Regions from separate parts of the Homo sapiens genome. Here region 2 is linked to region 1. Evidence: fine-mapped expression QTL. A gene starts in region 1. The other region holds a variant in brackets. All regions are shown on one strand. Distances are from middle to middle. Region 1 holds the start of LINC02067 (long intergenic non-protein coding RNA 2067). Region 2 overlaps LOC107986150 (a long non-coding RNA gene).

Evidence for each region. PIP is the estimated chance that this variant, and not a neighbour inherited with it, causes the effect. A credible set is the group of variants that fine-mapping cannot tell apart.
Region 2: its variant is the best candidate, but not a certain one, in a credible set for the expression of LINC02067 in testis (GTEx, PIP 0.76).

What each region holds. Positions count from the first base shown.
Region 1 is chr3:161,424,261-161,428,260 of GRCh38, forward strand. It overlaps LINC02067 (long intergenic non-protein coding RNA 2067), which reads left to right and starts at 2,167. Exons shown (of 4, transcript NR_102265.2): 1 at 2,167-3,397.
Region 2 is chr3:161,379,831-161,384,366 of GRCh38, forward strand. It overlaps LOC107986150 (a long non-coding RNA gene), which reads left to right. Exons shown (of 3, transcript XR_007096152.1): 1 at 1-4,536. Among named protein-coding and RNA genes, the nearest start is that of SPTSSB, 11 kb to the left of the region's middle. The variant T/G (reference allele first, on the strand shown) is at 2,601.

The sequences.
Region 1 (4,000 bases):
GAATTATATTAGATAGAAGGCTTGAATAAGCAATGTACAAAAAATACATGATCAATCAACTTCTGGAAAAAGTGTTCAAATTTCATTAGCAATACAAAAATACAAAGTAAGAAAAGACTGATGTACTGTTTCATCTCTCAAATCAGCAGAAAGTTTGAAAACAAAGGGATAGTGTGAGCAAAAGGGCGTTCATATGGTTTGTAGGGACATAAAATGCTACTGCGTTCTCAATCTGGGGTTGTTTTGGTCGGAAGGCTCCGAAGATGCATAAAAATTTGAACATATTTGCCCTTTCCTGAGAAGAGATGCAAAATCCATCAGATTCTCAAAGGGATTCATTCTCTCAAATGTTAAGAACAAATGTTTAAATTATTTGGGAGAATAATTTGGCAAAATGTGCAAGAAAGTTATGCGTATGTGTATTCCAATATTGTTTTGAATGCTTAATCACTATAAACCACCTAAATATTCAACAGTGGGACATTTGAAATAAATCACACTCCAGTTCTATGATAGAGTCAATGTAGTTATTAACAATCGTGCTGTAGAATTAATGATGCCGAAATGTTCTTTATACATGATGAGGTAGAAAAAGCAGTTTGCCATTTAGTACATGTGATATGATCCTGAGTTTATTGAAACATAAACATATGACGTGCATGAGAAAATATTTGGGAGTATCCATGAAAAATCCCAATGCCAGTTTGGGTAACTAAATGCAATGTGCTTGTCTTTATTTTTAGATAAATTTACAATGAATATATTACTTTTGTAATAAAAAGCATGATAAATATAATATAAAAAGGAATGATTAATTTTCTATCTATTAGAAGATTTGACACAGGAGATTGTTAACTTTTAATTAATCAACTGAACTGAATAGGTACAATTTGAAAAAGCATTTTAGAGGACTGGAACAATAATTACGTAATACTCCACATTGTTACTCTCTGCAGAAAGACCTTCTTAATATTTAAAAGCAGTTTAAAAAATCTGTAAATTTCCAAGCAAATAGAAAAATCTGTGCTATTCTGGACTTTTACAAGACACTAGAGCCTTTGTGAGTCTTTTCTAGAGCAAGACAGAGTGAAATAAAATAGAATAAATTAAAATGAAATAATTTAAAAAATTAGAGCATTAGCAAAGGTAACTAGGCCACTTTAAATATACAAATAAACTCTTACAATTTTTTTTGTTATTTTTAGAAAAAAGTTTACACTTCCTTCACCTTTTAGGAGTGAAAGGAGCAAAGGAAGTAAGAAAGGCTTGGGCCGGATGTGGTGGCTCATGCCTGTAATCTCAGCACTTTGGGATGCCGAGTCGGTGGATCACCTGAGGTCAGGAGTTCGAGACCAGCCTGGCCAACATGGTGAAACCCTCGTCACTACTAAAAATACAAAAAATTAGCTGGGCATGGTGGTGGACACCTGTAATCCCAGCTACTAGGGAGGCTGAGGCAGGAGAATTGCTTGAACTCTGGAGGCAGAGGCTGCAGTGAGCCCAGATCATGCCACTGCACTCCAGCCTGGGCAACAACAGGAAAACTCCATCTCAAAAAGAAAAAAAAAAAGAAAAAAAGAAGAAGAGGAGGTGAGGGGAGGGAAGGGGAGAGGAGGAGAGGGGAGGGGAGGGGAGGGGAGGGGAAGGGAAGGGAGGGAAGCTTGGTAGAGGAGCAATGATTCCTGAACTGGCTTTTTTTTTTTTTCTTTTTAAACTACAGGTGACCAAACAGAACTTCTCCAGTACAAGTCTGTCTGTCATTCCATTTGACATTGTATTGTAGGCATAAGCCCTGCCTTCCAGTTCCTTGGCAGTGGTGAAGCAGTATGGAGCTGGGGCAGGGAGGTGGCACATTATAGGACTGTGAGAACACTGCTCCTTTATACATAAAATTCCTACACAATGGATCACTTGAGGTCAAGAGTTTGAGACCAGCCTGGCCAACATGGTGAGACCCTGTCTCTACTAAAAATACAAAAATTAGCCCAGCTTGGTGGCAGGCGCCTGTAATCCCATCTATTTGGGAGGCGAGGAATGAGAATTGCTTGAAGCCAGGAGGCGGAGGTTGCAGTGAGCCAAGACCATGCTACTGCACTCCAGCCTGGGTGGCTGGGTGAGACTGTGTCTCAAAACAAAAACAAAAAACAAAAAACAAAACAAACAAAACAAACAAAAAATTCCTACCCGAGAAGACTCATGACTCTGGAACACAGTGAGTGCAGCTGTTATGGTAAGTGAAACAGCTAATGATCTGGCAGAACCTTCAAGATACAAGGTAAAGAGAAAAAAGCCAGGCGCAGGGTAGTCCACTTGCTGTCTTTTGTGTGAATCTATCTGTGTTTTTAAATGCAGAGACTAAAGGAATTGGCGGTAGGTAGGCATCGCCTCCAGGGAGTGGAATTGGATTACTGGGAGGCACAGAGAGAGGTGTACTTTCTTTTCACTGCAAACCTTTTGTGCATCCAGCCTTCTGCCTTAAAAAAAAAAAAATCTGCATATGGATCATTCTTCAAACAACAGAAAAAGGAAACCAAATAAAAAAAAATCTACCCAAAGAAAATTTTTTCGTAATAAAAATTGTTCCAAGCCTCAGAGCTGGCTCCCATGTTTTGAGCAACATCAGCTATTCATGTATTCAGCTGAAGCTCATCCTTAGGTTTTTGATCAAGCTGTGCCATGTTTTTCATTTCCTTTGATAGGGTTTCTCAGTTCCCGTCTTGTCAGTGAAGTGGTTTTTAGTTGAACTGTTATTTGCAATAGATGAAAGTAAACAGTGCAAGACATTAATTGTGGTGTTTCTACTTTAAAAACAATCAGATAAAATTCTAGAACAAGATTTGCTGTTCGGTAGGAAGATCAGATTCTTTTCCCTATACACTTAATGCTACGTATTCATGCTCCAGTGCAGACTGCTGGCAAGGTAAAGAGGCTGACAACCAGAGTTGTAATTAGGTCCTGCTTGTTTCCTTTAGAGTTTACAGTCCAGAAAGTTCATGGAAATAATGAGAGTCTTATAGCATTTTGTTATGCATTGAAATGTATTCTCATATGTTAAAGTCCTAATCCCCAGTACTTTAGAATGTGACCTGATTTGGAAATAAGGTCATTACAGATGTAAGTAAAGATGAGGTCACACTGGAGTAAGGTGGGCTATAATCCAATATGAGCATGTCCTTGTAGAAAGGGAAAATATTTACACAGCCACATACACAGGGAGAACTCCATGTGAAGATGAAGGCAGAGACCAGAGTGATGGTTCTACCAGACAAGGAATGCTGAAGATTGGCAGCAAACTACCACATGCTAGGAGAGGGTAATGACACAGATTCTTCCTTGCAGCAATCAGAAGAAAGGACCCCTGCTAACACTGGATCTCTGGCTTCTGGGATCCAAAACGGTGAGACAATAAGTTTCTGTTGGTGAAGCTGCTTCATTTGTGGTAGTTTGTTGCAGCTGCCCTAGCAAACAACTACATATTCTAGTCCAATTAGAATCAAGAAGCAGAATAAAATTGGAAAAGAGAAGGCAGACCATGACAGGGTGGCCAAATTATCTCCTTCTTTTACAACTTTAAAATCTTTTTTAATGGTAAAAGAGCATTCTGTGTGTGAATAGCAAAATCGAGAAACTCCGGTTCCCAAATCGTCAAGAACCCTAACAGGTGTGATTGATTGAGCACTGACTACAGGTGCCAGCCCTGGTGCTTGGTGCTTTAACTGGATTATCTTTCTTTCTTACAGATAATGCACAAGGTTGATACAATTCTCTCCATGTTACAGGTGAAGACACTGAGACTCAGAGAAATAAGGGGAAAAAAAAAAAAAAAAAAAAAAAAAAAAAAAAAAATCCCAGGGCTGCACAGGTGTTAAGTAATGAGCTCAAGATTTGGGCCCAAGTTTGATCGGCACTGTCAAATTAAGAATTGCTAAACTATAAATTCATCAACTGTAATTTCGAGATGTTTCTCCAACCTTTCTTTTGAGTATGCAGGATTTGAATT
Region 2 (4,536 bases), 44 kb before region 1:
TGTGGAGAATTTGGCATTCGTTGTGAAGGTATTATTTTAATTTCTGTCAAATTAAACTTTCAGGTCAGGGTTGCTATTAGGGATGAAAAGAGCAAATCCAGAATGAAAGTAAGAAGTAAGAAGATAAGGCAACAAGACAATTCAGATGTCAAGATTAAACAACAGGAAAAGAAGCCCATGGAAACAGAGTGGCAACTGGAAGTAAAACCATGGTCTTTCATGGATAGTTCTGTCCCAGTCTTCATCTCATCTAGTGATCTGTACTTTAAATTTATTTGATGACTTGGTGGGAGGATTCGGGGAGGTTAGAGAAGCATCTCAGTGGTTTTAAGTACATTCACAGGGTTGTGCAACCATCATCACTATCTAAGTCTACAACATTTTCATGACCTGAAAAAGAAGCCCCATACTTGTTAGCAGTCACTTCTCGTTCTTCCACCGCCACTGCCAATCCTAGGCAGCCATTAATCTACTTGCTGTCTCTACATATTTGTCTATTCTGGACATATTATATAAATGGAATCATACAATATGTCGCCTTTTGTGACTGTTTTATTTTACTTAGCATAATATTTTCTGCTCACTGTTGAGGAGGGCAACTGGCACATAGTGGGTGCTCAAAAAATATTTACAGAATGAAGAATAAGAAATGGAAAAGTTTCTACCTTCATGCTTGGAGTTGGGAGGTGAGTGGATCCATTCCCTACTCTGGTCATTCATGTTGTAATATGTATTAGTACTTCATTCCTTTTTATTTGCTGAATCGTATTCTATTGTGTGGCTGTCCTATATTTTGTTTATCCATTTCGTCAGTTGATGGACATTTGGGTTGTTTTCCCTTTGGGGTGATTATGAGTAATGTGGCTAAGAACATTTTGTGTGGACATATGTTTTCATTTCTCTTAGGTATATGAGATATGATAGTGGAATGGCTGGGTCATATGATAACTCTGTGTTTAACTTTGAGGTACTGCCAAGTTATTTTTCAAGGTGTTTGCACCATTTTACATTCCTACGCATAATGTATGAGGTTCCAACTTCTTCACATCCTGACCAATGCTTGTTATTGTTTGTGATTTTAGCCATTCTTATGGGTGTGAAGTGGTATCTCATTGTGGTTTTCATTTATGCTTTTCTAATTAATAATTATATTTAGCATCTTTCCATGTGTTTATAGGTCATTTGTACATCTTTGGAGAAATGTCTATTCAAATTATTTACCCATTTTTAAACTGGGATATTTGTCTTTTTATGTACAGTTGTAAGAGTTTTTTAAATATATTCTGGGTACAAGTCCCCTGTCAGATATATGATTTGCAAAGAGTTTCTCCCATCTTATGGTCTGTCTTTTCACTTTCTTGATGGTGTCCTTTGAAACACACAAGTTGTTAATTTTGGTGAAGTCTAACTTATCTCTTTTTTTCCTTTGGTCTCTTATGAATTTGGTGTTTATGTAAGACACTATTACCTAATCCCAAATTATAGAGATTTTCCTCTAGTTTCCTTCTAGGAATTTTAGAGTTTTAGCTCTTACATTTAGATGTGTGATCCATTTTCAGTTGTCTTGTGCATGGTGTCAGGTAGGTATCCAAATTCATTCTTTTTCATGTGGATATCAAATTGTTCCAACACTGTTTGTTGAAAACAGTGTTCTTTCTCCATTGAATTGTCTTAGTACCCTTACCAAAATCAATTGACCATAAATGTAGGGAATTATTTCTGGGTACTCAATTCTATTCCATTGATCTATCTATCTAGCCTTATTCCAGTACCATGCTGTTTTGATTACTATAGCTTTATTCTAATAAGTTTTGAAATTTGGAAGTGTTGATCCTCCATTTTGTTCTTCTTTTTAAATCTTGTTTTGGCTATTATTTATTTTTTGCATTTTCTTATAAATTTTAAGATCATCTTGTCAATTTCTGTGAAAAAGGTAGCAGGAATTTTGATAGGTATTACTATCCTGTAATACAGATTTAATTTATAGATTAATTTGAGGATTATGCCACCTTAACAATATTAGGTGTTCTGATCCATGAACATGGGAGGGCTTTCCATTTACTTAGATCTTCTTTATTATCTTTTTCAATAGTATTTTGTAGTTTTCAGTGTACAAGTCTTGAATTTCTTTTGTTAAAAGTTTTTTAAAACTCCAAATGTAAATGAAGCTTAGTGATGTCCAGGAACGATGTCTTGGTCAACCCTGCATCCCTCCTACCAAGCTTAGTGTCTGGGTTAGTGTCTTGAATTGTGGCTGGCAATATTTGTACTTATCGAGGTGAGTTCAAAAAATATCTTTCATGTCCATAGAAAGTTGACAGTATCATCTCCTTTTTATTACAGCATTCCATTAAGAAAACAACATATATTAATGCCATTTAATAAGAATGGTAAATTATGGATAATATATTAAAGCCAAGATGGTTAACTGACATCGCCAAAGATATGCAGTCAATGTCAAATATAAAATTAGAGCACAACTCAACATTTCCCCCAGTGATACATTAATTCTAAAAGCCTTTAAGTCAAGAAAGACATGAGAAAGATAAAGGGAAAAAAGGGGGGTGGAACTAAGTGATTTTTATTGGATCATATACAAA[T/G]GTATATTGTCATATCATCCACCTTTTTTAGGGCTAAAAAAGGCTTTCAGTTAGGAAATGTACTTTTTTCTTGAACTTCTAAATTAGCTAAGTGTTTGAAAAGGAGACTTAAGAATTATCTCCATGCCACATATCAATGGCATTGACATGAATATTCCAGAATCTTGACTTAGTGAAAGTTAAGGTCAGACTCCCAAAGATGAAGCTAAAGATGTAGCAAATTTTCTAAACTCCCTTTTCCACTTGTGCTTCAAAGGTAGGAATCTCTTTAATGAGTTAACATTTCCTGGGATGTGGTCTGTGCTGCAGGATTTAGATTGAGCATCCAGTTAAACATCTGGCAGGGTGCTTAATAGAGAAACTCCTAAGGGGATGAAACTGGTGTTAAATTACCATGATTGAAAGGAGTGCAGGGTATGGATAACTAGCATTTACTGAGAACACTTATAAATCAGAATGGCATTGTCAAAGTGAGGCAACCAAATGGACCAAGAGGAGAGTGCTATACTGGCTAGATGTTATTGATTATGCAACTCTCATTCACAGGGGGAAATGAGGCCTATTGAGAATTTCTTGATGATGAAAACAGGAGGTGCAAGAAGAGAGATGCTTATTATCAAGGGTTTCAGACATTGTGCCCACAGGAGCTGCTGTGGTTGACTGAAACCTTTTAGATCTGAACTGGGTGAATGATGATGGCTGCCTGGATTCAACACCCATAAAATTTTCAATTATAAATGGTTAAAAAAGAAATAACTGAATACTCCCAGAAGTGTTCCTTACGGGAGCCAGGTTAAAACCTGTGGGAAATATAGGTAGAGGGGCAGAGGACTTCTAAAATGGGAGTGAAACAAAAGATCTTTCAGATGAGGTGTGAATTGAACTAATGTTAACTACATATTTATTATCCTATCAGTTGTCTGAGAGTCAAACCAATGACTTCATCATTAAGTGATGAAGGCCTTAAAATAAACTCTTGGCATATGTGGATGTAACATTTGTGGTTCCACTATATTTAAAGCATTCTAGAGGTCCATTAAATTTGTAATTTTGCTGAGACACAAGCTTGAATTCTGAATTTGATGTGAGAATGAGTAAGTTGATTGGTTAGGAAGTCACCTAGCTAGTGAGTAAGAAGTAATCTGAAACTAATTTTTATTTTGTTTTGAATTTGCCAGCACCTCTAGTAAAAATTAGCTCGGAGGTAATATGAATATTTACAATAAAATAGTTTAATTACTTGAGCTTTATTTTACCTTATCCCTGTCTCCCATTAACATTGATAATTCAGTTTATTTGGAGGAAATAGAGTGATTTCACATGTCTTTTTAAAAGTTTCTGAGAGATGGCAGATAGTAGAAAGCAAGGTTTTTGTCATGAAGCTGCATTTCCATAGTAAGTATCCAAATTTAATTCAGAAGAAAATTAGATAAAAATTGGAAGGGTTTAATTTTTAATCTTAGCTTCAAGTAGGCACATAGCTTCTTGAAAGGAATTAGATCACTGTTGTTGTTAAGAAAATTGAGATGCAATTTTGAAGAATAAGTTACGTAGGCATTTTCCTCAAACCATTAGCAAATAATATGTGATCAATTCCAAGGTGTGGCTTTTAATTTTCAAGGTGAAAGCTATTTTTCTGCGGTGGCTGTGTGGATGCAACACAATTTAGTGGAGGGCATGCTGAGAAGTATCTTCGAGAGGTCTTTGTAGGCTGTAAGAATGACAACATGAATTTAAGTCCTTCTGAGGACTAAGACTATTTAAAGTTTCAGGAGAACAGAGCCAGAGTTGTTCTTATGGGATTTAGCAATAAAGGACTTAATTTTGAGAATCAATTAACAAAATTGTGAATTTGGAACCATAGCAGGATCTGATAGTAACCCTGAAGCTGGAAGGAACCTTGGAGCACAGCTTCCGTTCTTTGATGGTTATAAGC